Linked DNA regions of Homo sapiens. The protein of the gene in region 1 purifies or fractionates together with the protein of each later gene. This does not show direct contact. Each region holds a gene or a part of one and is shown in the gene's direction. Other genes may lie near its edges.

Evidence for each region.
Region 2: the proteins of MMP26 (region 1) and PTPRK purify together in Homo sapiens (affinity purification with mass spectrometry; 2 studies listed by BioGRID and IntAct, with this or other methods). This does not show direct contact.
Region 3: the proteins of MMP26 (region 1) and ZNF146 purify together in Homo sapiens (affinity purification with mass spectrometry; 2 studies listed by BioGRID and IntAct, with this or other methods). This does not show direct contact.
Region 4: the proteins of MMP26 (region 1) and SLC25A20 purify together in Homo sapiens (affinity purification with mass spectrometry; 2 studies listed by BioGRID and IntAct, with this or other methods). This does not show direct contact.

Annotation. Positions count from the first base shown.
Region 1 is NC_000011.10:4,707,763-4,714,797, forward strand, and holds part of MMP26 (matrix metalloproteinase-26 isoform 1 preproprotein), read left to right. Parts: intron 1-7,035. UniProt on the Homo sapiens protein: May hydrolyze collagen type IV, fibronectin, fibrinogen, beta-casein, type I gelatin and alpha-1 proteinase inhibitor. Is also able to activate progelatinase B.
Region 2 is NC_000006.12:127,971,595-127,978,629, reverse strand, and holds part of PTPRK (receptor-type tyrosine-protein phosphatase kappa isoform b precursor), read left to right. Parts: intron 1-1,575; coding exon 1,576-1,707; intron 1,708-1,847; coding exon 1,848-1,973; intron 1,974-4,802; coding exon 4,803-4,966; intron 4,967-5,472; coding exon 5,473-5,608; intron 5,609-7,035. UniProt on the Homo sapiens protein: Regulation of processes involving cell contact and adhesion such as growth control, tumor invasion, and metastasis. Negative regulator of EGFR signaling pathway. Forms complexes with beta-catenin and gamma-catenin/plakoglobin.
Region 3 is NC_000019.10:36,218,088-36,225,122, forward strand, and holds part of ZNF146 (zinc finger protein OZF), read left to right. Parts: intron 1-34; 5' UTR 35-108; intron 109-7,035.
Region 4 is NC_000003.12:48,856,417-48,860,908, reverse strand, and holds the end of SLC25A20 (mitochondrial carnitine/acylcarnitine carrier protein), read left to right. Parts: intron 1-1,281; coding exon 1,282-1,354; intron 1,355-1,707; coding exon 1,708-1,817; intron 1,818-2,277; coding exon 2,278-2,402; intron 2,403-3,136; coding exon 3,137-3,199; 3' UTR 3,200-3,983; downstream 3,984-4,492. UniProt on the Homo sapiens protein: Mediates the electroneutral exchange of acylcarnitines (O-acyl-(R)-carnitine or L-acylcarnitine) of different acyl chain lengths (ranging from O-acetyl-(R)-carnitine to long-chain O-acyl-(R)-carnitines) with free carnitine ((R)-carnitine or L-carnitine) across the mitochondrial inner membrane, via a ping-pong mechanism.

The DNA of each region.
Region 1 (7,035 bases):
GGTTTATCACTATTTTCAGAAGCAGTTCATTCATTCATTTAATAGATACTTTTAGATGCTGTTGTGCTAGCCATTTTTTCTGGCTCTGAGATCGTAGGTCTGAGAAAAAATGGTCCTTATATTTTCCTGGGAGTCATTTTTGCCTTAGTGGCCATGTCTCCTCAGTTTCATTAGAGGACGCTTCTTCTGGTCTTTTCTTTAAATACTGCTGTTCCCCAGCACTCTGTCCTCAGACTTCATTTCCCTTAGATTTATTACTCTAAGATATTTTTCACTGATCCTGTGACTTCAACCATAGACATTAGTTTCACAACTCTCAAGCCCTATTATCAGGGCAGGAGTCATTTTCCCTAGGATGCAGAAGTAGGTACATGTCCCGATTCTCGTATGTAAAGTCACAGGTGAAAAAGTGAAGCTTATCTTCCAACTGAGATCCAAGGCTTGACTCGAAGATCCATAGCTTTTGTTTTGTCTTGCATTGCCTCTCAATTCAAAATTTCCAGCCACTATCTTTCTTTGCGTGTGTGTGAGAACTCAAAGAGGCTTCCTGTATTGAACATTTTTCCTTCTTCTCAAATACCTAGAGAAATGCCCTCTTGAACACACTTCCTGTAACCAGTTATTCTTACTGATGTCTAAGCTCCTGTCTTTTCATTCGGGGGGTTGCAATGAAGATAACTAAGTTAACCTATACTCAAATATTTTCTTTCTCAGGGTCAGACCTTCTTAAAGTAGCAAGTCTAATTCTAATGCACACACTAACACTGTAGGTATTTAATTTTTTTGAGTAAATACATGCATGAGTAAGTAAAAGGGGAACATAAATATGTTAAAAACCAAACATTCTTTCTATAGATAAAAACAGTGTCAGAAAACTTAAGACAAGAAGCAATATACAGAAACATTTTCAATCCTACAGATTTATGGATCTGGGTGAGCATACACTTAGATCTCCAGAGAAAACCTCCTTCCCCCAGCCAATCTATTCTCAATGCCCTTTTGCAGAAATGGAAAATCAAGAAACTTGCTCAGGTAAATACTCCAGTTATTATCCATGACTTTCCAATGAATTCCTTTGTTCTTGTTAAGGTTATTTAAGCCATCTTTTTTCAGGCAGAATATCCTTTGAACATAATCAACTTCTCAATTATTACATGTATAAACAAACCTTTTTTCTACTGTCACCCACTGTGGTCCATTTAGATTTAATTGTTTCTTTCCTGGTACTTAGTTTTATTTATTTATTTTTTTCACTCAACAGCTATTGTGTATTCATTTGATCAGGAGTATTTTACTAGAAAATGTTTAATATTATCTTATTCTCTTACTTTCATTGGGTCACATGGACTTATAAACTTTAATGCACCTTAGGGTTTTTGCCGCAGAAACTGAGAAGTGAAGAAAAGCAGGGTGAATTTCCTGTTGTGTTTCTTATGGCTGTCCGGAAATATCCCATCTGCCCGTGTACATACAGTCATAGAAATGGGAAACATTTTCTATTATTGAAACTAATCTCCTGTTTTATATATGTATATATAAGTATCCTGAAGCCTAGATGTAATATAATGGGAATCTTGCTAAAAACCAGGTTTCTTTACACAATTTAGTGTCTGTGTCCTCTCCTAGTTCATTCAAGAACACATATAAGAAAACAGTAAGTGGCTATGCATTTTCATTGAAGAATAGGATGTGGTTCTCTAGTGATCACAAATTGTATGGTGTATAGAAGAAAGTGAAAATGCTTTTCTTCTCCATTATTACAGGACATAGTTCTTTTCCTCAAAGACATCTGCTTCTTCGCTCATCATGCCATCCTTCAACCAGAGTATTTTCCACCCTGCAGTCTTCTTCCTTACTGGCATCCCTGGCCTTGAAACCCGTCAGATCTGGACCTCCATCCCATTCTGTTGTCTCTATGTCATTGCTATCTCTGGGAATGGCATGATCCTGTTTGTCATCATCACTGAGTCAAGCCTCCATGAACCCATGTATCATTTTCTCTCCATGCTATCCTTCATGGACCTAGGTCTGTGTCTTTCTACATTGACCACCATGCTGGGTATTTTCTGGTTCAATGCTCGAGAAATCAGTTTTGATGCCTGCATTGGCCAAATGTTCTTTATCCATGGCTTCACATTCATGGAGTCCTCAGTACTTTTGGCAATGGCCTTTGACCGCTTTATTGCCGTCTGTAACCCACTGAGATATGCCACAATCTTAACCAATTCACGGATTATTAAAGTGGGCTTTGCAATTGTTCTTAGGGGAACAACAGCTCTAGTGCCTCTACTCCTGCTCCTTAAGCGCCTCTCCTTCTGCCGTAGTCATGTGCTCCACCATTCCTACTGCTTCCACCCTGATGCGATGAAGCTCTCATGCACAGACACATGGATCAACAGTGCATTTGGCCTGGCCATTGTTATCTCTACTGCTGGCTTAGACTCTGTCTTGATCCTCATCTCCTATGTTCTGATCGTCCGCTCTGTGCTCTGCATTGCCTCCCCAGAGGAGCAGAAAAAGGCTTTTGGTACCTGTGTCTCTCACATCAGTGCAGTTGCCATCTTCTACATCCCCATGATCAGTTTGTCACCAGTGCACAGATTTGGAAAGCATGCCCCTCCCCTTGTGCACATGCTCATTGCCAATGTTTATCTGCTTATCCCTCCTGTAATGAATCCCATAATCTACAGTGTAAAGACCAAGTAAATTCGCAAGGCTGTGCTCAAAGCATTTCTTTCTAAGCTAATTTAGGGAAGTTTGAGTGTACTCCTTCTTTACCAAGTCTTCCCTGACCCATGTTTGATCATTCAGTACTGTGAGTTACTGTTGTTTATTGAAACAGCTGGTTTCAACATGCTTTCTTTCTATTCTGATGATCCACTAACTTACCATTTACACAGTTCTAAATGGTGAGTTATTTAAGGGCAGAGATTATGTCGGTACTTCTGATCCTTTCATGAATACTGAACCTAGCACAGTATAGGACCACAGTTAAAATATGTCTGAAAGCATGCACAAGTAAAGTCATACTTGGAGTTTAGGAGTCTCACCACCTCTAGAGCATGTAGCTATCCAAAGTAGATCTCATGTAACGTAGATCAGTAGGCAAAGTCTAGGTTTTAGTAATTCTTACAGTTTATTTGTGATGATTCATTATTCCACCAGACAGATTGTAAATGGCTGAAGAATATGAATAAGCACAATAAGCAAGAAGTATTAATAAAAGGACTACTTTCCTAATTCTTAAAAGAGTACTTGAGGTCACCTTGGTAAATGCATTTGTATTTTAATAGTAGAAGATCTGGGGGTCCATTGTCTAAATATATGTCTAAAGAAGAAAAATGGGCAAGAATGTAAAGATATATTGTGATGTTCAACACATCATTCATTATACATTGCAATGAACATGTGGAAACTGCTTAAATAATTACTTTAGGGTACTGACCTAATAAAACATAAAATACAATGCAACAAGTTAAATACTGATACAAATATAAATTACATTTTGTTAAAAAATATAGGTTAGTATACAAAGTACTTACTTGTGTATATATTTCATGTGAATATGTGTAAATGCACATTAAAAAGTATAAATAGACATATCCCAAACATTACAACAGCTTATATTTGATAGCTGGATATTGTTTTGCTGACATATTCTTTACACTTTCTTGCATTTTATAAATGTTCAATAATGAGGGTTTCTTTTTCTTTTTGGATAATGAAGTAATTTCCACTTAATACCTTCCCACAAAACAAAACTTTTTTAGTTCTTCATCTTACATAAGATCTTCATTCCAGTGGGTCTTCACAGATCTGGCCTCATGCAACCCACTGAATACACTCATAAGATGACATCCACTTTCTACTTGCATCTATCACTTTTCTCAATGTGGTCCAGCATCTGTGCATCCAAACCACTTGACACTTCCGTTTAAAGTGCAGATTCCTCAATTCCGCTCCAGAGCTACTTAAACAGAAGCCCTTGAAATGGAACCCACAAATTTGCATTTTAACAAGACATTTACGGATTATCATGTATGAAAGAGTAACACTTTTCTGGGGTCTATCCACTTTGATGAATTATATATATTTCTGAAAAACACCAGGAATATATTGCCTCTAAGTCTGTGATTATTTTGCTCTCTCTGACTGACATACCCACCTCTTTCTTTTCCTGATTGTTCCATTTATTATTCTTTCAGGTGCTGTTAATAAATCTTTGTCTTACAGGGAGTCAGATTTCTCTTCCCCTACTGATCTGAAACTTTTTGAAAATGGGCATTGGACTTTGGGAATTGATGTATCTCGCACAGATACAAGTGCAGTGCTTTATTAATAATAGCTACTTAATGTATGCTTATTGAATTAAATTTATTTTTATATAACTTCACATATATACTGACATATTTTGAGCATCTTCATTTTGGCAAACACTGTGGAAGGGAGGTACTAGGGATAAAACAGTGAATGGGGAAGGCACAGCCTTCATTCTTAAGGTGTTTAAATCTGACTAAACATATCTAAATTCAAACAATATTTTAATCAGTTTTTACTTACAAACTGTGTACAAAACATTATACCACATGCTAAGAGTAGTCATAGATGGCGGTCTCTCTTTCTCCCAGTAGAAGCCTGAACCAATGGAAAAACAACCAGCCCAGGAAATACTTGACTTAATAAGAAAAATATAGCTCCTAGAAATTTACTGTTTAATAGAGAAAATATAATATGCACTCATTTCTAAGCAATGAAAGCATAAACATAAGTTATTTAAATTTCATATGGATAGGAAAAGTTTTCAAAAATAATTTTGAAGTTGGAGCAACCACATTTTTGGGTGTATCTTAAAATAGATGTACTAAGAATGTTATTGTGAAAGTAACAATTTTGATTCATGCTTTAATAATGTAATTTATGAAGTGTCAATTACAGATAATCTTGTATAGTATAGTTATACGTACCTTAATAAAATCCACTTTGAAGTATATTTATTTTCTCTCTTTATAAAGTAATACTTTATATTTTTTCTTATTTCTAAGTTTTTTTTTCTTTTAATCTTACAGCTTATATCTCTTATTTTTCCCTACTATCTATGTTACACTCTGAATTCAACAACATCCAATACTATGGTCTATACATTTTGCTTTTATTTATAGTCCATCTGAAACAATGGTTGTTTAAAACTGTGAGAACTAATGCTGAAAATAGTAGTCTGGTTAATCTGAAGTAGACTTTGAAAGAGTAGGCGATAGGGTGTTGAGGTTCTGTTTGAGAATGTCTTCTAAATTGACATTTCTATAAACGGATATATCAGAGTTTAGGGGGAAAATGTGATGTTTGTACCATTCAGGTTGATATTGAAACCAAGCAGAAAACTGCAATATATTAGGGATTCTCAAATTAGGTGCCTGACTTCCTCAGCTGCTTCACGTGGAGCTGTAAAAATGCATTTTTCTAGGGAAGAGGAAAGACTAAGTTCCATGCTGTGTTATTTGTATTATGTTATTTAGATTCAAATGACTTAGGATGCATAAAAGATCTTCATGCCTAACATAGATCCTGTCTCCCTATTTAGCTTCATCTCTCCCCCACACTGGCACCCAGGGTTCCAAGTGAGCTGAGTCTGTTATTAGTCACCTTCTGTTCTTCCTACACTCTGTGCTCCATTGTCTCCTGACAGACCTGGTTCTGAGTTTCCTTCAGGATAAACACAACTCTTCTGTACTGTCATCGTAAATATCCCTCATTGTAAACACTGAGTTTTATGTCTGTTTCCACAGGTGGTTCCCTCCAAGGAGCTCTGGAGGGAAAAGACTCTGTTTTATTCTCTGTATTACCAGTACAAAGTCCTAGAATATGAAAGATACTTCAAATGTTCCATGAAAGAATAAATGAAGATTTTTGGGGGGCATAGAGTGAAGCACAAGCAGAGGGGTTTCTAAAAATATATAAAATTCACCTAAATAATATAGGAGGAAGATAAGTTTATCAGTTGGGTGTGGGAGTGGTGTGAAGATGAGGGGCGATCTGGTGGGTTTTTTTGGGAGGGTGTGGTTACTCACAAATTTACTTTTAAGAAAATTTTAACAACACATAAGATCAAAGACCTGTAACAGCAGTCCCTTCATGGAAACTATAAAAGAACATGAAGTAGAAGGAGAAGAAAGCCATGAAGTAGAATGAGCCCTTGGGAAGCTTCATACTCTGGGGGCTGCAGAAATCACCACCAGGAGCTTATTAAGAGCTTTCAGGCATCCTGAGATATGGCTTCAGATATATGCTACTTATTTCTGGGTAGAATACATCCCCAGCTCCTCAGGCTCCTTTCTGGAAAACAGGCAGGAAAGAACACATCCTTATACTTTGTAAGTAAAACTGCTGCATTTACGAAAAACATTACACTTTACACGCCCTGGTTTCTTTTAAGAATGAGGGGGACTTTATTAGCTGCAGAAAGCTCTTGTGGGTGCCTAAGGAAAATTGTGGAAATCTATTTTCTGAAATCTGTATTTTCTAGGAACATTCTATTCTGAGGAGGTTTGATTGGTCTATGAGCCATTTGTTTTGCTGCTTAGAGCAGGTTGTTAATGTGTCCATGCAATTTTAAGTTTCCTGGTTAGTTGTGTCACATTTTATAACTGCCACTGAAGGTCCTAAAGTCAACAGCCACTACCACCGTCACACACACTGCCACTGCCATTCTTATCCTCATCCTCATCTTCATTTACCAATATCACGTGACTTCCACGTCCCACACACTGGTCAGCATATTATATGCTTTGCAATGTTATCTTGTTTAATCCTTACAAAGTAGTGCCATTGGTGAACTACCAGTTTCACCTTAGTGGAATCTGATGTAAAGTGCTTATTTGGAGAACTCCGGCTAGCTCTAGGTGGCAGAGACCAAATTTGAACCTAGGTTTGTATGACGGTATAACAATATCACTTACTCTGTAATCAGAGAAGAGAGATAAGTCAAGGTAGCCCAGGAAATAACTTGAAACACATTCTTACAATGGGCCTGGAGTGTTA
Region 2 (7,035 bases), on another chromosome or scaffold:
GGAAGAAGAGCTTCCTTTCTTCTAACTTTTCTCATTGTATTAGTTCATTCTCACACTGCTAATAAAAACATACCTGAGACTGGGTAATTTATAAAGGAAAGAGTTTTAATTGACTCACAGTTCCACAGGGCTGGGGAGGCCTCAGGATCCCTGCAATTATGGCCGAAGGGGAAGCAAACCCGTCCTTCTTCTCATGGTGGCAGGAAGGGGAAGGAGTGCCAAGCAAAGGGGGAAGCCCCTTATAAAACCACCAGATGTCATGAGAACTCACTCACTATCTGGAGAACAGCATGGGGGAAACTGCCTGCATGATTCAATTATCTCCACCTGGTCCTGCCCTTGACATGTGGGGATTATTACAATTCTAGGTGAGATTTGGGTGGGGACACAGAGCCAAACAATATGACTCATGAACCTTCCTGCCTTTCTTAGGAGACACTCATCCCAGCTGCACGTGTAACTTGGTAAGGTTTTGAGGTCATTTAGAAGTAGCCAGGTAAATTATTATTGTCATCTACTCAGATTTATCCTGCAGTCTTCAGCCAACGCTGAATGCCATGGTTGGTAGCATTTCCCAAATGGTGGTAGCATCAGTGAAGTCCAAGAACCAGTTCCTGTGCTGATGTTAAGATTCTTGAAGGACTTAAATAGTAGTATGATACAAATGAGTTACAAGATCATTGAAAATTTTTGTCAGCATTAGGGAACTCTATAATCTACTAATTATTATTATTATTATTGCAAATAATTAGTTTAAATCAAATGGCAATTGTCCAGTCCAGATAAATATTGTTTTTACTACTTCTCCCTTTGGAAAGAGATAATATATTGTGTTCTAATCAAGGAGGACTTGGTTAACAAGGAGCTATCTCCCCGCTTATGTGGGGACAGGAAATATATTGCTGTTATGCTTTGGTGCTTCAGGATCTTAAATGGTTGAGACTGTCATTATGACCTTTGATATATGTTAGAAATGCCCAGGAAGCTGTGGAAGGTGGATTGTCTGCAAGATGTGCAGAATATCCTGGTAGTGTCCACATAATGTAAAAGCACAAGTGTTTGAGCTACTTGTGGTTTTTCTTATTTGGAGTGGAGAAGAGTAAAACAATTTTACTTGCACGCACACACACTATACACATACCCAGATGATTGATAGACATACCAGGGGTTTTGTGCTTACTTTGCCTTCAGCCTCTCAGAGACTGATTACGTTTGGAAAATTGAAATAGCCCAACAGGAACCTTACAGAGGATGTTAACCTCAGAAGCTTTTTAGTTTCTTCTTTTGTATTTGTCCTGTATTTACGTCTTTCAGTAAAGTAAAAACTCAGTTATTGACTTGAATTGCTTTGGAAGCATTGAAGTCTTCCACCAAATTGATTCATTACTGTACTAATTCAGTTCATTCCAGTGGTCTGAATCTCCTATTCCATGGTTTAATCATCACTCTGGCTCCTTCTGCATATGAAGCTATTGCATCTTACTGGTCCTACATTGAAGTGTATTGTATCTGTTTGTACAACCGATCATACATTTTAAGTTTTTATATTTCTCCATCTACCTTGTTTCTTCACAGAGCTACAGGCAACCAGCTGCTTTCATCGTCACACAATACCCTCTGCCAAACACTGTAAAAGACTTCTGGAGATTAGTGTATGATTATGGCTGTACCTCCATTGTGATGTTAAACGAAGTCGACTTGTCCCAGGTTAATGGCTATGGATTGCTTTTATGTACTTATATACAACTTAATAGAGTAGTAATGAATTGCTAAAATCTGCTTTATACTCTCCTAACTAGAAAAAATAATACTCTTTTTTTTTTTCTTTCAAAACGTTCATCATTTAGGGCTGCCCTCAGTACTGGCCAGAGGAAGGGATGCTACGATATGGCCCCATCCAAGTGGAATGTATGTCTTGTTCAATGGACTGTGATGTGATCAACCGGATTTTTAGGATATGCAATCTAACAAGAGTAAGTCACTATCGGATCCTTTGAGCTGATCTAGAATAGGTCAGTCATAACCAAGATGTGGTATAATTTTATTCAGACAACAGGGAGACTACAATTAATAAGCACTATATCATCCACCTCAAAGCTAGTAACCATCTTATGCCTTAGTACTCGAATAAAAATACAGGAAAACAGAAATGCTGGAAGCTAGGTTTTTCGGTCAGTCACTAGACTAGCATATTCTCTCAGGAAATACAGATGCACTGGCTCAGTCAAGTTGGACAGCCTAGGCCTGGCCTCTGAGTGTATGTAGACTTATCTTAAGGATGACTGCATGTTTTATTAGTATTGACATCCAGCCCAGAAATGGCATGTGATAAAAAAAATAAGAACATTGCAATAACAATAATGACAGAGAAACTGTACTGCAGGAGGAAAGAGACATGTTGGATCAACCATTATAGAAGGGTTCCATGTCACTGTTCCAAGTTCATTATTGATTATCCTACCTGCAATTTCATCTTCCTAAACGTCTCAACCTATGGCTCTAAGCAGATCTAAAGGTAGAACCAGTGCTGCTACCACCATGCCTTTTCCCAGCAGCAAAGTAGTAACTGTATCGTCTTTCTCTGACTCCTCATTTGCTTTCCACTACATGACAAATTCAATGTGGGTGGGGAAGATCTTAAAAAAAAAAGTGCTAATAAAGCCCGGGCACAGTGCCTCATGCCTGTAATTCCAGCACTTTGGGAGGCCAAGGCGGGCAGATCATAAGGTCAGGAGTTCAAGACCAGCCTGGCAACGTGGTGAAACCCCATCTCTACTAAAAATACAAAAATTAGCTGGACATGGTGGTGGCATGCCTGTAGTCCCAGCTAGTGGGGAGGCTGAGGCAGCAGAATCATTTGAACCCGGGAGGCAGAAGTTGTAGTGAGCTGAGATCACGCCACTGCACCCCAGGCTGTATAGAGCGAGACTTCGTCCCCCAAAAAAAGATATTAATAAAAACAATTTAGATTATGTAACCAAATAACAAGCAGAATTGGAAAAGAAAACATTAGTAACTTTCATGAAATTAAGCTCTTTTTAGAGAGAAACATTACTCTGTTTTTTAAAGCACCAGCTCTGTGGGTATGTATTTTAAGTGTGTGATTAGGATTATCATGTTTCAGTGTCTCTCATATCAAAATGACTACGTGTGTGTCTGGTTAATAAGTCTATATGTATATAACTATGAGCAGGGAATGGAATCATATCGACTCCTATTGCTCATTTCAGTGGAGAAAAAAAGGATAACTTCAATCATCTCATAATATTCATGCATATCTTAGATGTTAATTTAAATGGAATCTCATTATGTCTGCACATCTGTTACATTATGGTTCTAGTAATATTTGAGTTGGAAAAAAACAGAACTGCTGAAGACAGTAAGGCTTGTCTGTTAATTGAGCAGTTTATGTGAAAAATATTCTAGGAACAGGAACTGAAATGTTATATTTTTGTCAGCATATTTATTTATTTGTTTGCTTACTTATTGAACTGCCTCTGTATTTGGTATTCTGGTCCTTATTAGTACATGATTTTTTTTCTGTTCTCACTCTCATCATTTAATATATTTAATATATTTAACTGCATCAAACATTTAACATGTACCAACAAGTTTGTAGAGTACTAAGTAGGGCTTGTAATCTACCAAAAGATGCATGGGCTCTTGCCAATCTGATATGATTTACTCATATATTACATATTCTTCCTGATATTTTTATTTCAAGGTTTAAGGTTTTGATTCATTCTTTCAACACTACTACTTTTGGGGAAGTATTATGCAAAGTTCTACTGATACAGAGTGTAGGAAAAAAAGATTTCCGTGTACTTAAGGAATCTTTATTTTTTTCAGGAAGAAAAGCATTACATGAAAATTGTATAATCCTTTTTGTATAAAAGTGATGCATTTTACAGTGAAAGAGTAAAGAATATAGAGTGTTTAACTGGGTGATCTGACATAACTGTGTGATCAGAGATGACCTCTTTGCGATAGTAGTATTTAAGCCAAAATTTAATGAATCAATAGAAATTAGTTGGGGGTTGATGTAACCCACCATCCTGGTTTGCCCAGGGCAGGAGCTTTCCCAAGACACACAGCCTTCAGTGCTAAGACCAGAGAAGTCCCAGGCCAACCTGGGACAAGTTGGTCATTCTATTTGGGATTGAGAAGACCAAGCAAGGAAGAAGTATTCAAGGCAAAGGGTACATACAGTATATGCAAAGTCCCCAAGGCAAGAAGAGACTTGATATATGGATTAAAAGAAGACAAAGAGAAGGTTGAAGAAGGGGGTGGAGCCAGATCACATAAGTTTTTTTAAGCCATGACAACAATTTGGATTTTATGCTAAGATCATTTGAAAATCATTAAAGCAGGAAATGACAAGATTGTATCTGCAGTTCAAAATAATCATGATGCCTATAGTAAGAATGGACTGGAAGGAGATCAAAGTTTATTCAGGGAGATCAGCTAGGAGGTAATTATCAGAACCTGTGACTAGTAGTGTATTGATGTCAGTGGTGATAAAGAGAAGGCAATGAATCTGAAAGTTATTTAGGAAATGTAATCGTAGTAATGAATTACTGGATACATAGTGCGAGGGAGAAACAGGTATAAAGGATGATTGCCATGTTTCCTGCTGTTGTCACTTAGAATGTTTTTTTACTAGCATGTACATATTGAGGATTTATATCAGCTAGACTCAATCCAGTGTAGATGCCATTTGTATTGTAAATTATATGCACCTTTTACTTTTTAGTAAAAATTGTAGTCCCAGCGTATTTACATAAAAACACTTCCCTCTACAGCCACAGGAAGGTTATCTGATGGTGCAACAGTTTCAGTACCTAGGATGGGCTTCTCATCGAGAAGTGCCTGGATCCAAAAGGTCATTCTTGAAACTGATACTTCAGGTGGAAAAGTGGCAGGAGGAATGCGAGGAAGGGGAAGGCCGGACGATTATCCACTGCCTGTGAGTAGGGCAGCTCAGCCTGTCATTCATGGGGCCTTGGTGCTTATTTTCTCATTTTCAATGTTAAAGACTATCTGGCTTGCATCTTATGGACCTCCCATAGATGTTATTTTTAAACAGTCTTCCTGTCTCATGAGTCTATAATTAACTACTAAGTTTATTTTGTATATTTTCTAAATATTGATTATTATATAGCTATATTATTTAAACTCTTTGGAACACTACTCGTAACAACTTCTGATTTACACAGTTTACAAATATATCAGAATCTCAAAGTCTAGATTGCAGCAATCTATGCCTATAGCATTTTCCTGAGTATAAGCTACTGATCTAATTTCATCCTCAAGTTTTCTCCTCTCTGCCTTGTACACATATAAAGCAAAATTAAGACACAAATGGAAAACAATTAAAACTACAATGTCTTATTTTCCCAAACATATATGATGGTGTGACCTGTGGTCACTTGGTGCTGCTATCTAAAATGCCTTTGCTTTCTTTGCTTTCAGAAATGGTGGCGGGCGAAGTGGCATGTTCTGTGCTATAGGCATCGTTGTTGAAATGGTGAAACGGCAAAATGTTGTCGATGTTTTCCATGCAGTAAAGACACTGAGGAACAGCAAGCCAAACATGGTGGAAGCCCCGGTGAGTCACAGAATCTTAGATTTGGAAGGCATCTTAGAGATTAGTTAGTCATATACCTACTTATTGATTTGACTTCATACACACATAGGGAATCAGATGTGAAAATGAGACGTTGTGGGGACTTTCCTGCCTAATTAATACATTGCTGAGCATCCCCCTCTACCCACAGACACTTAATCACGTATTGCATAAACTGCTAATCATGAAACTATTTTCATTTAATTTGGGAAATTTGTAGGATTTTTTTTCTGTTATAGCCAAAAAATATTTGCTGCAGTAAACTTTGGTAAATGGTCCTATAAGAAGAATAAATCCTATATCAAGGCTGTATGTCTAAGGGATATAGGTTTCATCAGTACCTTAGACACCCAGTATTTTTAAAAGGCAATGAAATTTAGTTTTGTCATTATCTATAATTATTCATTCATTTTCTGATCAAATTGTAAATGGTTAAACTATCATGGTTAAGTTTTCAGCTTTTACCAACTGTAGAGGGCAGTTCATATCATGCTACTTGAGCTTGTCAAGGCTCGTAAAGTCAGAACATAGCTTACAAAATAAGAGCTGATAGGTATGTGTGTGTGTGACAGTTCATCTAGGTGAAGCTGTATGCAGAGTAAGAAAGAAAGTTACACTTATCTAACACATTTTACTTCTAACGAGAGATATCTGTGGGTTACACATATGTATGTGCATGGTGGGATCAGGTTGGGAGCAGCTGTGTAGTGTATGCTCACAGAAAAGTAAACCAGAAAAACCAAGGCATCATTGTTGCTTGCCCTACATTTATCAAGATGATCAGATAACTAGAATGAGCAATTCAATAAACCTTTAAAGTATTTCACCACTTCCTGCTCATGGATTGCTCGCACAAGAGTTGCGTTGCTTCCTGAGACAAAATCTGAAGACTTAGGTTTGTACTGTTTCACTTTTACAAGCGGTACCAGACTTCCACCCTTTCTACAGGTGTCCTCAAACTCCCTACACCACCTCATTTCCCTGGGTTGTTGCAGCTGTCTACACAAGATTACATTGGTTTTGATTGGGGTGCTGGCTATGGAGATGAGAAAGGGGGGATGAATCGGAGGGATTTTTGAGGGAGAACTCTCAGATCGTCTTAGCAACTAAATGAATAGTGGTTATGTCTCTAAACTTTGCGATTTGAAGATTTCTTGATGTAAACTCTGCCTCCATTTTTCAGGTCAAGTCTTAAAATCATCAGTGGGATCATTTCTGACTTCAGAATTCAACTTTTACCTTCAAATTTAACTGATTTCCCACCTTTTTTAATTAAAAAAAAAATCTATGGTTAAACTGTGCCATTCTGGGACCTTCCAAAAAGTTACTATTTTCCTTTACATTCATGTCCCGTGAATCCTGAACACCCCACCCTCTGATTTGTGTTTAATCAGTGTTGATGATTAGTT
Region 3 (7,035 bases), on another chromosome or scaffold:
AGCTAATTTTTTTTTTTTTTTTTTTAAATTAAAGGAAGACATAGGCCAAGGAGCCAGACTTCCTGTGTTAACTCCTTCCTCTGCCACTTTTTACCTTGGGGACCTCAGGTAGGTACTTAAACCTTGGGCCTCAGTTGCTCATTTCATAGTATAGAAATAATAGCAATATTTGATTCAAAGGGTGGTTGTGTAGCTCCAGAAGTTAATACATGTAAAGTTCTAAGAATAGTCCCCAGTGTGTAGTAAGTACTTGATTAATGTTAAATACTAGTACTTTTTATTACTAGCTGCAAAAAAAATGCTTCCTCAGAAAATATTATAGTCCTGTGTCTGGTAGGAATTTCTGAAAGAATAAGATATGTAGATGCACTTTTGTTATTAATATTTCTTTTTTTTTTTTGATGGAGTCTCACTGTCGCCCAGGCTGCAGTGCAGTGGCCTGATCTCGGCTCACTGCAGGCTCTGCCTCCCTGGTTCATGCCATTCTCCCGCCTCAGCCTCCTGAGTAGCTGGGACTACAGGTGCCAGCCACCACGCCTGGCTAATTTTGTTTTTGTATTTTTAGTAGAGATGGGGTTTCACCGCGTTAGCCAGGATGGTCTGGATCTCCTGACCTTGTGATCCACCTGCCTCAGCCTCCCAAAGTCCTGGCATTACAGGCGTGAGCCACTGCGCCCGGCCTAATATTTCTATATTTTAATTTTTTTACTTAAAATTTTCTTTTTTTTTGGTGGAGGGGGGGACAGAGTCTCGGTTTGTCGCCCAGGCTGGAGTGCAGTGGTGCTATCTTGGCTCACTGCAAGCTTCACCTCCCAGGTTCACGCCATTCTCCAGCCTTAGCCTCCCAAGTAGCTGGGACTACGGGCGCCCACCACCACGTCCGGCTAATTTTTTGTATTTTTAGTAGAGACGGGATTTCACCGTGTTAGCCAGGATGGTCTCCATCTCCTGACCTCGTGATCCGCCCACCTCGGCCTCCCAAAGTGCTGGGATTACAGGCGTGAGCCACTGCGCCTGGCCACTTAAAATTTTCTGTGGATATTTCCTTTTTTAACTGGAATCAGGAAGTTAGGTTTGTTTTTTGATTTTTGAGATGGGGTCTCACTCTGGCTCAGGCTGGGTGCACTGGTGCGATCACATCTCATTGCAGCCTCCACCTCCTGGGCTGAAGAGATCCTCCCACCTCAGCCCCACCCCCGCAGTGGTTGGGACTACAGGTGTGTGCCACCACGACCTGCTAATTTTTAAACCTTTTTTTGTAGAGATGGAGTCTTACTATGTTGCCCAGGCTGGAAGTTAGATTTCTGTGTTTGAGTTATGTTTATCTTTAGAAAGTCATCATTATCCGCTCCTTTGGAAGATTTGTTCTTTGATTTCTATGATTACTTTTGCATGGTTCTAATTCAGAATCTCTGATGATTTTTTTTTTAATTCTAATTGTGATTGATTTTTGGCCAGAATACATCAGAGGTGATCTTACATACTTCAAATTGCATACCATTAGGAGAGATATACCAGATGGCTGGTGATTGTTACTTCCCTTTGACCAAAATGTTATGTTTACTTTGGTTCATTCTCCATCAGTCATTTAGTGGATGGTTTTAAAACCAATACATAATTCTTGGCTGGATGAGTAAATTTCTACAGGTATTGTAAAGTGATGATTTTCTGTTTTTTTTGTTGTTGTTGTTTGTTTGTTTTGTGTAAAAATGTAGTAGTCTATACGTTAAGAGAAACTTCTGGGAACAAACTAGAAATGATCCCTGGAAGTATAGTCTTAATTTCTCTTGTCTTTTCATTCCTTTTACATTTGTTTCATTGTTACATCAAATTGTATCTTTTTTTCCCCCTGGCTTTTTCTTTCTTAAACATCATCCTAAAGTTGTGTATATTTAGCGTGTTCTAGAATCAGCTGCACTTTTTGATGCCAGTGGATACCCCTTCAGGTCATTCTTGTCTCATTTTGGCTGACATCATTGATCTTGGAAAGTTTTCCTGCACTGCAGGCTTGTATCTTCCTCCCAGACTTGGAATTGACCATTTCTCCAAGGAGCTCTGGTTCCTTTTATTGGAGAATGGTATTAGAGACAAGATCAAGGGTGTGCTCATTGCCCAGGGGTAACATTGTTTTAAGGCCATTTTAAATTGCAGAGCATTTAAAAAATACATTTTTAATGTATTTTTAAAAATCATGAGTCCATATTCGTATTTCTAATTCACTTTAAATGGTATAGTATTTTTACCTAATTTCTTAGCTCCTAGTTCTTTTTTTTAATTTAATTTTATTTTATTTTTGAGACGGAGTCTTGCTCTGTCGCCCAGGCTGGAGTGCAGTGGCACGATCTCAGCTCACTGCAATCTCCGCCTCCTGGGTTCAAGTGATTCTCCTGCTTCAGCCTCCCGAGTAGCTGGGACTACAGGTGCATGCCACCACGCCCAGCTAAGTTTTTGTATTTTTAGTAGAGATGGGGTTTCACCGTGTTAGCCAGGATGGTCTCGATCTCCTAACCTCAGGTGATCTGCCCACCTTGGCCTCCCAAAGCGCTGGGATTACAGGCGTGAGCCACGGCGCCCGGCCTCCTAGTTGTATTTTATAGTAAAAAATATGAAACAAGTTATAAGTACTTATTTTGTTTGCTTTATCCTGCAATATAAAGAAAATGGTTTCAGTAACAATGCTGATACTAGTAGTAACCATAAACATACTGTATCATGTTAAAAAATTCTTTCTTTAATATATGTAACTATTTTTGTTCTTAAAATGCATCTTTTTTTTTTTTTTGAGATGTTGTCTTACTCTTTTGCCCAGGGCAGAGTGCAGTGGTGTGATCTTGGCTCACTTGCAACATCTGCCTCCCCAGTTCCAGCGATTCTCCTGCCTCAGCCTCCTGAGTAGCTGGGATTACAGGTGCCCACCATGACGCCTAGCTAATTTTTGTATTTCTAGTAGAGACAGCGTTTCACCATGTTGGCCAGGCTGGTCTCGAACTCCTGACTTCCTACTCGTCTTGGCCTCCCAAAGTGCTGGGATTTCAGGCATGAGCCACTGAGCCCAGCTTTTAAAATGCATCTCACTAAAGATGTATGTAGTCAAAGAACTCTGTTCTAAAGTCATTTGAAATCGTTTTTCTGAGGAATTATGTTACTAAATTAACATACAGTTGGGTTCATTTGTTGTTTTCAGGTTAAGGGACTGCTTTTTTTTTTTTTTTTTTTTTTGAGACGGAGTCTCACTCTGTCCCCTAGGCTGGAGTGCAGTGGCGCAATCTCGGCTCACTGCAAGCTCCGCCTCCCGGGTTCACGCCATTCTTCTGCCTCAGCCTCCCGAGTAGCTGGGACTATAGGTGTCAGCCACCACGCCCGGCTAATTTTTTGTATTTTTAGTAGAGACGAGGTTTCACCATGTTAGCCAGGATGATCTTGATCTCCTGACCTCGTGATCCACCCGCATCAGCCTCCCAAAGTACTGGGATTACAGGCTTGAGCCACCGTGCCTGGCCAAGGCACTACTTTTTAAAAAATGAATTTGATTACTATTGAAGTAAGTAATGCATTTCTGTGATTCAACAAAGATCTATCTCACAGAGATATCTCATTCTGCTCCCTTCCCCCAGTCACATTCTTCTTTGTCTTATGTAAACATGTCTTGTTTTTTTTTGTTTGCTTCTTGTTTATCCTTCAAGTGGGTTTTTTGTTTTTTGTTCTGTCACTATTATATATTTCTCTTCACTCCTGTTTCCCTCCACCTTACATAAAAGATAGCATACCACATGCACCTCCCTATATCTCACTTTCTTTAATAACAGTATGTCCTAGAGATAGCCCTTCCTTTTTTCTTTCTTTTTTTTTTTTTTTTTTTTTTGAAATAGTCTCGCTCTGTCACCCAAGCTGGTGTGCAATGGTGTTAACATGGCATACTGCAGCCTCCAACTGCTGGGCTGAAGTGATCTTCCTGCCTCAGCCGCCTGTGTAGCTGGGACCACAGGCACACTCCACCACACCTGGCTTTTTTACTTTTTGTAGAGATGAGGTCTCACTGTTTCCCAGATTGGTCTCGAACTCCTGAGCTCAAGCAGTCCTCCTCTCTTGGCTTCCCAAAGTGTTGGGATTACAAGTGTGAGCCACTGCACCCAGCCAAGGTGTTCCTTCTTAATCATAATCTTTAAAAGAAATTTTTTTTTCAGCTGCTGTATAAATAAGATGTCATTATTTGGATGCACCATGGTTGATTCAGTTAATCCCGTTGTTGAGCATTTGGATTGTTTCCAGTCTTCTGCTGTTGCTAACAATGCAGTAATGAATAATTTTTTTATGTGCGCCATTTTATACTGACACAGGAGTAGCTCTAAACTAGACTGCTATTAATACAAATGGCGCTGCCCAGTGGGTAAGTACTTACACTCCCACAAGCCATGTGCGAGAGCGTCTTCCCCTTAAACTCACCATGAGTGTAGTGTCGAATATTTGGTATTTCGCTAGGGACATAAGAGACAATCTGAACTTCAGTGTAGGTTTCATTTACATCCCTTCTTATGAATGAGAATTTTTTTTTATATGTTTAAAGGCCTGTATGTATTAATCTAGGAACTGTCTATTCATATCCTTTTCACCATTTTTCTATGGGGTGTCTTCTCCTTAGAGGAGCTGTTTATAAATTAGAAAGGTTAGCCCTGTATGAAATGAGTGGTGGCTTTTTTTTTTTTTTTTTTTGAAGTTTTCATTTGCATTTGGACATTGTTCACAGTGGTTTCTTTTTTTTTTAATCTTGCAGAAATAAGAGGTTTTGTTTTAATTTAGTAATAATAGTTTCTTTTTTTACATAGCCGTGCTTAGAATGAGCCCCCTGTGGTTGGTGAGCACAGAGACATCCCCGCACCACACCAAAGACCTTTTTATTCATGTATTTTTTAGAGGCACAGTCTCACTGTGTTGCACAGGCTGGCCTTGAACCCCTGGGCCCAAGCAAGTCTCAGACTCCCAAGTAGCGGGGACTACAGGCAGTGCACCACCATGCTGCTATGGTTTTCTTTTTATTTTCAAAACTTTTGGCTGGGCGCGATGGCTCACGCCTGTAATCCCAGCACTTTGGGAGGCTGAGGCGGGTAGATCACTTGAGGTCAGGAGTTTGAGACTAGCCCGGTCAACATGGTGAAACCCCGTCTCTACTAAAAATACAAAAAATTTAGCCAGTCATTGTGGTGCACGAGATCACACCACTGCACTTTAGCCTGGGCAACAGAGTGAGACTCCGTCTCAAAAAAAAAAAAAAATCTAGTTACATTTTTTTCTTTTTGAGATGGAGTATCTCTCCGTCCCCCAGGCTGGAATGCAGTGGTGCGATTTCGGCTCACTGCAAGCTCCGCCTCCCGGGTTCACGCCATTCTCCTGCCTCAGCCTCCCAAGTAGCTGGGACTACAGGCGCATGCCACCACGCCTGGTTAATTTTTTCGTATTTTTAGTAGAGACGGGGTTTCACCATGTTAGCCAGGATGGTCTCGATCTCCTGACCTCGTGATCCGCCCGCCTCGGCCCTCCAAAGTGCTGGGATTACAGGCGTGAGCCACCGCGCGTGGCTGATTCATCAGTCTTTTATGGTTATCAGACTTTTCCACTCTTAAGTTTCACCGATATTTTCAAATTCTTATAAAGTTACAGTTTTTTGTTGTTTGATTGTTTTAGAGTTGGATCTTGATCTGTCACCCAGGCTGGGGTGCAGTGGCGTGATCACAGCTGACTGCAGCCTTCATATCCTCGCTAATTTAAAAAAAAAAAAATTGTAGAGATAAGATCTCCCTGTGTTGCCCAGGCTGGTCTCAAACTCCTGGGCCCAAGTGATCCTGCTACCTTGGCTTCCCAAGTCAGAGCAATAGTTTTTTTAAGATTTTGTTTTTATTTTAATTTATAATCCATTTAGATTTTATCCTGGTGTATGCTATCAGATATGCATCCAGCTTTACCTTTTTCCAATTGGCTACCACGTTCTTTGACATCATTTATTAAAAGGTCTTACCTGGCTGGGCACGGTGGCTCACGCCTGCAATCCCAGCACTTTGCAAGGCCAAGGTGGGTGGATCACTTGAGGTCAGGAGTTCGAGACCAGCCTGGCCAATATGGAGAAACCCTGTCTCTACTAAAAATACAAAACATTAGCTGGGTGTGGTGGCACATGCCTGAATCCCAGCTATTCGGAGGCTGAGACAGGAGAATCGCTTGAACATAGGAGGGCGGAGGTTGCAGTGAGCTGAGATTGTGCCACTGCACTGCAGCCTGGGCAACAAGAGCCAAACTCCATCTCACACACATTAAAAAAAGGTCTTATGTTTACTATTTTTAGGATGCCACTTTGATTATATACTAAATTCTCACATTTATTTGGTCTGTTTCTGGGTGTGAGCAGAAAGACTGAGGACACTGCTATAGCCCAGGTGTAACAACCAGGGAAAATATTTATCTTTTTACTATTGAGGCTTTATCATTGTGTTTTACTTTGTGGTATAGCTAGTCTCTTAATTGCTCGTCCTTTTCAGTGTTTCCTGGCTATTCTTGCCTGTTTATTTTTCTTTGTAAATTTTAGGATTAGCTTGTCTCGTTCCAGAGGGGGAAAAGGTAGAACTAGTTTGTTACTTTTATTGGGATTGCATTAAATTTATAAAATAACTTGGGAATAGGGACATTTTTATGACATTAAATATTCCTCTTTATGTACGTGATACGTATTCTCGTTTCTTTTTGGGTCCTCTAGGGTGTTTTAAAATTTTTTTCATACAGGTTTGGACACTTCTTACTAAGTTTATTTCTGGATGTTTTGTTTTATGTTGCTATGAATGGAGTCATTGTTGGCATATATGAAGCTGTTGATTTCTACATACTAATATTATTCCCTGCTTTCCTTAGTTATTTGTAATTAGATTATATAATTGAGGCAGTAGGCATCCTTGTCTGTTTAGAATCTAATAGAAATGCCTTCAGTGTTTTTCTATTACTTTTATTATCATGATTTGCTTTTCAGTGTTTTTACATTAGATAAGATACTGG
Region 4 (4,492 bases), on another chromosome or scaffold:
TGAGCCGAGATTGCACCATTGCACTCCAGCCTGGGCGAGAGAGCGAGACTCCGTCTCAAAAAAAAAAAAAAAAAGTAAAGTAATAATAATAATAATACTATATTCTTTTTCTTTTTTTTTTGAGACAGAGTCTTGCTCTGTTGCCCAGCCAGGAGTGCATTAGTGTGATCTTGGCTTACTGCAACCTCCACCTTCTGGGTTCGAGTGATTCCTGTGCCTCAGCCTCCTGAATAGCTGGGATTACAGGCATGTGCCACCAGGCCGGGCTAATTTTTGTATTTTTTGTATTATTATTATTTTTTTTTGAGATGGAGTCTTGCTCTGTCACCAGGCTGGAGTGCAGTGACTCGATCTCAGCTTACTGCAACCTCCACCTCCTGGATTCAAGCGATTCTCCTGCCTCAGTCTCCTGAGTAGCTGGGACTACAGGCATGCACCACCATGCCCGGCTAATTTTTGGTAGAGACAGGGTTTCACCATGTTGGCCAGGATAGTCTCAATCTCTTGACCTCGTGATCCGCCCACCTCGGACTCCCAAAGTGCTGGGATTACAGGTGTGAGCCACCACGCTTGGCCATTTTTGTATTTTTGTATTTTTTTTTTTTTTTGAGATGGAGTCTCACTCTGTCAGCCAGGCTGGAGTGCAGTGGCGCAGTCTCAGCTCACTGCAACCTCCACCTCCCGGGTTCAAGCCATTCTCTTGCCTCAGCCTCCTGAGTAGCTGGGATTACAGGTGCCCGCCACCACGCCTGGCTAATTTTTATATTTTTAGTAGAGACGGGGTTTCACCATGTTGGTCAGGCTGGTCTCAAACTCCTGACCTTGTGATCCGCCCGCCTCGGCCTCCCGAAGTGCTGGGATTAAAGGCATGAGCCACTATGCCCGGCCCATTTTTATATTTTTAGTAGAGACGAGGCTTTCGCCATATTGGCCAGACTGGTCTCGAATTCCTGGCCTCAGGTGATGTGCCTGCCTCAGCCTCCCAAAGTGCTCGGATTACAGTTATGAGCTACCATGCCTGGCATTTTTTTCTTTTTAATGCTTTTTTAGTCTACATAAATTACTACCATACGCTAATGTTTAGAAAGCAAATAAATTGAACCAAATCTGGTCACCCAATTAAAAAACAATTTTACTAATAATTCAGGCCAAGCGCGGACCTCCTGGCCTCAAGCAATCCCCCTGCCTCAATCTCCTAAATTGCTGAGATTACAGGTGTGTACCACCATGCCTGGCGAAGAGTTTATGTACTTTAATTCACCTTTTTCTTGCCACTAACAGATGTCCCAGCTAGTGGAATGTATTTCATGACATATGAATGGCTGAAAAATATCTTCACTCCGGAGGGAAAGAGGTGAGGAAAACATAACTTGGAAGCCACTTTCCCCAGTCATGGGTGCGTTGCCCTCTCCTGTGGGTGAATCTGAAAGCAGAAGTAGTTGTTGTTCCTGGCTCCATGTCTGCTTTCCTCTTGTGGCTGCTGAGGTCCAGCTAGCTCTTCTTACTCTGTGCCTCAGCCAGTGGAGCAAATATTTGAAACAGGTGCATGAAACCTTCTCCAAGGAGTGCCAGCAGCACTGGCCTTATACCTCCTCCCTCCAACCAGTTTCTGCCTGTCTGTAACTGCCCTGTCTGCCACAGGCAGGATAGTCTGAATGCCACTCTCACAGCCTTTGTCTAACTGGGGCTGTGGTTGGTGTTATACAGGGTCAGTGAGCTCAGTGCCCCTCGGATCTTGGTGGCTGGGGGCATTGCAGGGATCTTCAACTGGGCTGTGGCAATCCCCCCAGATGTGCTCAAGTCTCGATTCCAGACTGGTGAGTGGAAGGTAGTGGGGTGGACAGGGGGAGAGTGGGTCCCCAGCACTGGCTAATCCTGGGGTGCAAAGCTCATAAGGCCCTAGGGATACTCACTCTCCATGGCAGCACCTAGCATCTGCCTGACCAATATTCTCCCTCACAGTCATTTGCATTCTAGGAACCCTAGATTCATTTTCATGACAGCCTAAACACAAGGTAAGTGTGATAAGAAGTCAAGTCCACTCTTCCTCCCCCACATGAACAGAAGGGCTGTTTCATTCTTCTTCCCTCGTTTCTATTCCCTTGGCACAAGTAATTCAGGCATTTGTGCATTTGTCCCAAGGTGAACTGTTGTCTATGGACTGGTCCCACATGACCTGCAAGGTGTCCTTTCCCTGTGCTAGTCCTGACCCTTCAGGAAGACTTAACTGCTAGTTTCTCCTTCCTGAAGCCTTAAAAATTGGGTTCTGCCCCACAGCACCTCCTGGGAAATATCCTAATGGTTTCAGAGATGTGCTGAGGGAGCTGATCCGGGATGAAGGAGTCACATCCTTGTACAAAGGGTTCAATGCAGTGATGATCCGAGCCTTCCCAGCCAATGCGGTGAGTAGCTGGCAGGGCTGTGCTTTCCCTCTGGGGCTCAGGGCAGGGTGCATGTGGTTTGACTTTTGCTTGTTCCTGGGATAGGACTGGGGTCTCAGTTTTCCCAAAGCCCTATCTTCAGCCAGAGCATTCCTTATTTGCTCCCTTCCTTGAAGCTGTCAGGAGGATTTGCCTTTGGGGATCTCTGAGGTGAGGGGCTTTGATTTCCTGACCTGGCCATTAGAAGTGGGCAGTTGTGAGGCCAGGCATGGTGGCTAGTGCCTGTAATCCCAGCACTTTGGGAGGCTAAGGCAGGTGGATCATCTGAGGTCAGGAGTTTGAGACCAGCTTGGCCAACATGGGGAAACACCGCCTCTACTAAAAATACAAAAATTAGCTGGGCGTGGTGGCGGGTGCCTGTAATCCCAGCTACTCAGGAGGCTGAGGCAGGAGAATTACTTTAACCTGGGAGGCAGAGATTGCAGTGAGCCGAGATTGTACCATTGCACTTCAACCTGGGTGACAAGAGCAAAACTCCATCTCAAAAAAAAAAAAAAAAGAAGTGGGCAGTTGTGGAATATAAATTTTCTTCTCCTCTTAAAAATGAGAGAGTAGAGCTTGCATCCTTGATGTGGAGTGGGTGTGGGGTTAGGGAGGGGCTCTGGTCCTGACAGGGCCAGCAAAGCATAGTGCTTTGAATAGTCTATGAATAGTTATTCCTGCTGGCTTTTTTCTTCCTCCCAATCCCTTCTTAGGCCTGTTTCCTTGGCTTTGAAGTTGCCATGAAGTTCCTTAATTGGGCCACCCCCAACTTGTGAGGCTGAAGGCTGCTCAAGTTCACTTCTGGATGCTGGAAGCTGTCGTTGAGGAGAAGGAGTAGTAAGCAGAACTAAGCAGTCTTGGAGGGCAAGGGGAGGGGAATGGTGAGATCCGAGCCCTGTGCATGGACTTGGTGAGACTGTTGCCTTAATGACATCCTGCACCGTGTATAACTTAGTGTGTCATTTTGAAACTTGAATTCATTCTTATCAATTTAAGGGATCTTAAAAGGATTTGGAAATGGAACAAGTAGCTTCCAGACCAGATACTACCTGTGGCAAGAATGCTGCCTACCAGTTAACTGCTGGTCCTACCACAGTCAAAGTATTCCTCATTAAAGAGAGAATCTCAGGTTCTCACTGGAGGCACTGTGCATATTTTCAACCAGATCACCAGGAGCTGAGATCTTCTTCAGTCCCTAGCCAGGAATACCCATTTGATTTCCAGGGTGCCATCTAATCCTGGGCTGTACATGTGGATATGGACTTGAGGCCCACCTCTGTGTCCAAGTGGATTGAGCATATATGCCTAGGAGGAGATAGACTGTTAATCGTTGGATTTTGATTTTTTTTTTTTATGCCTGCAAATAATCAAAAGTAAAACTGGAGTAGCCTAATTTTCTGGGAGCAGGTGGAGAACTTTCCCTCCTACACAGTGAGGACAGTCCCAGTCTGCTGGGATAAGTGAGAAAGCCCAGGGTGTAGGAAGGCCCTTTTTACATACTCTTTTCTCATGAGAGCTCACTATTTTAACAATAAACAATAAACGTTGTTTCTAATTTTTGCATTGTGTTATATTTTCTTCTTTTGATTCTGGGACATTTCAGCAGGCAGCCTGTAGCCTTGGTGGAGGCTTTCAGGGATCCAGTATTCTTCCCTGGGAACCTTAGGCTGGGGATCCAGCAGGAGGAGGTGGAGGAGGAGGAAGTTTTGGCTGGCTCTGCCTTCTCTGACTGCCCTAGCCCCGGCTGCTCTAGGGAGGGTGTGTGGGGTGGTGTGACCCGACTGGTAATTGTTCACACAGGCCTCAATGCAAGCCTGGCAGACAGGCCCTCCCAAGGCCCAGCCTGCAACCCATCCCTTCATTTATTCCCCTCTCTTCCCTGAGCACCATGGGTGTCTGAGCTAACAGATGGAGAGTCAGTTGTTCTAAAAGGACAAAAGCAATCTCGGGTTTTCATGTGGGCTTTGGAGTTGCTGTGCGATCTGAGGTAGCTAGCTTAACTTTACTAATCAGGCAGATTATGCTATCCAGGTGTGTCCAGAAAAGGTGAGGGAGTTGGAGAGTCATAA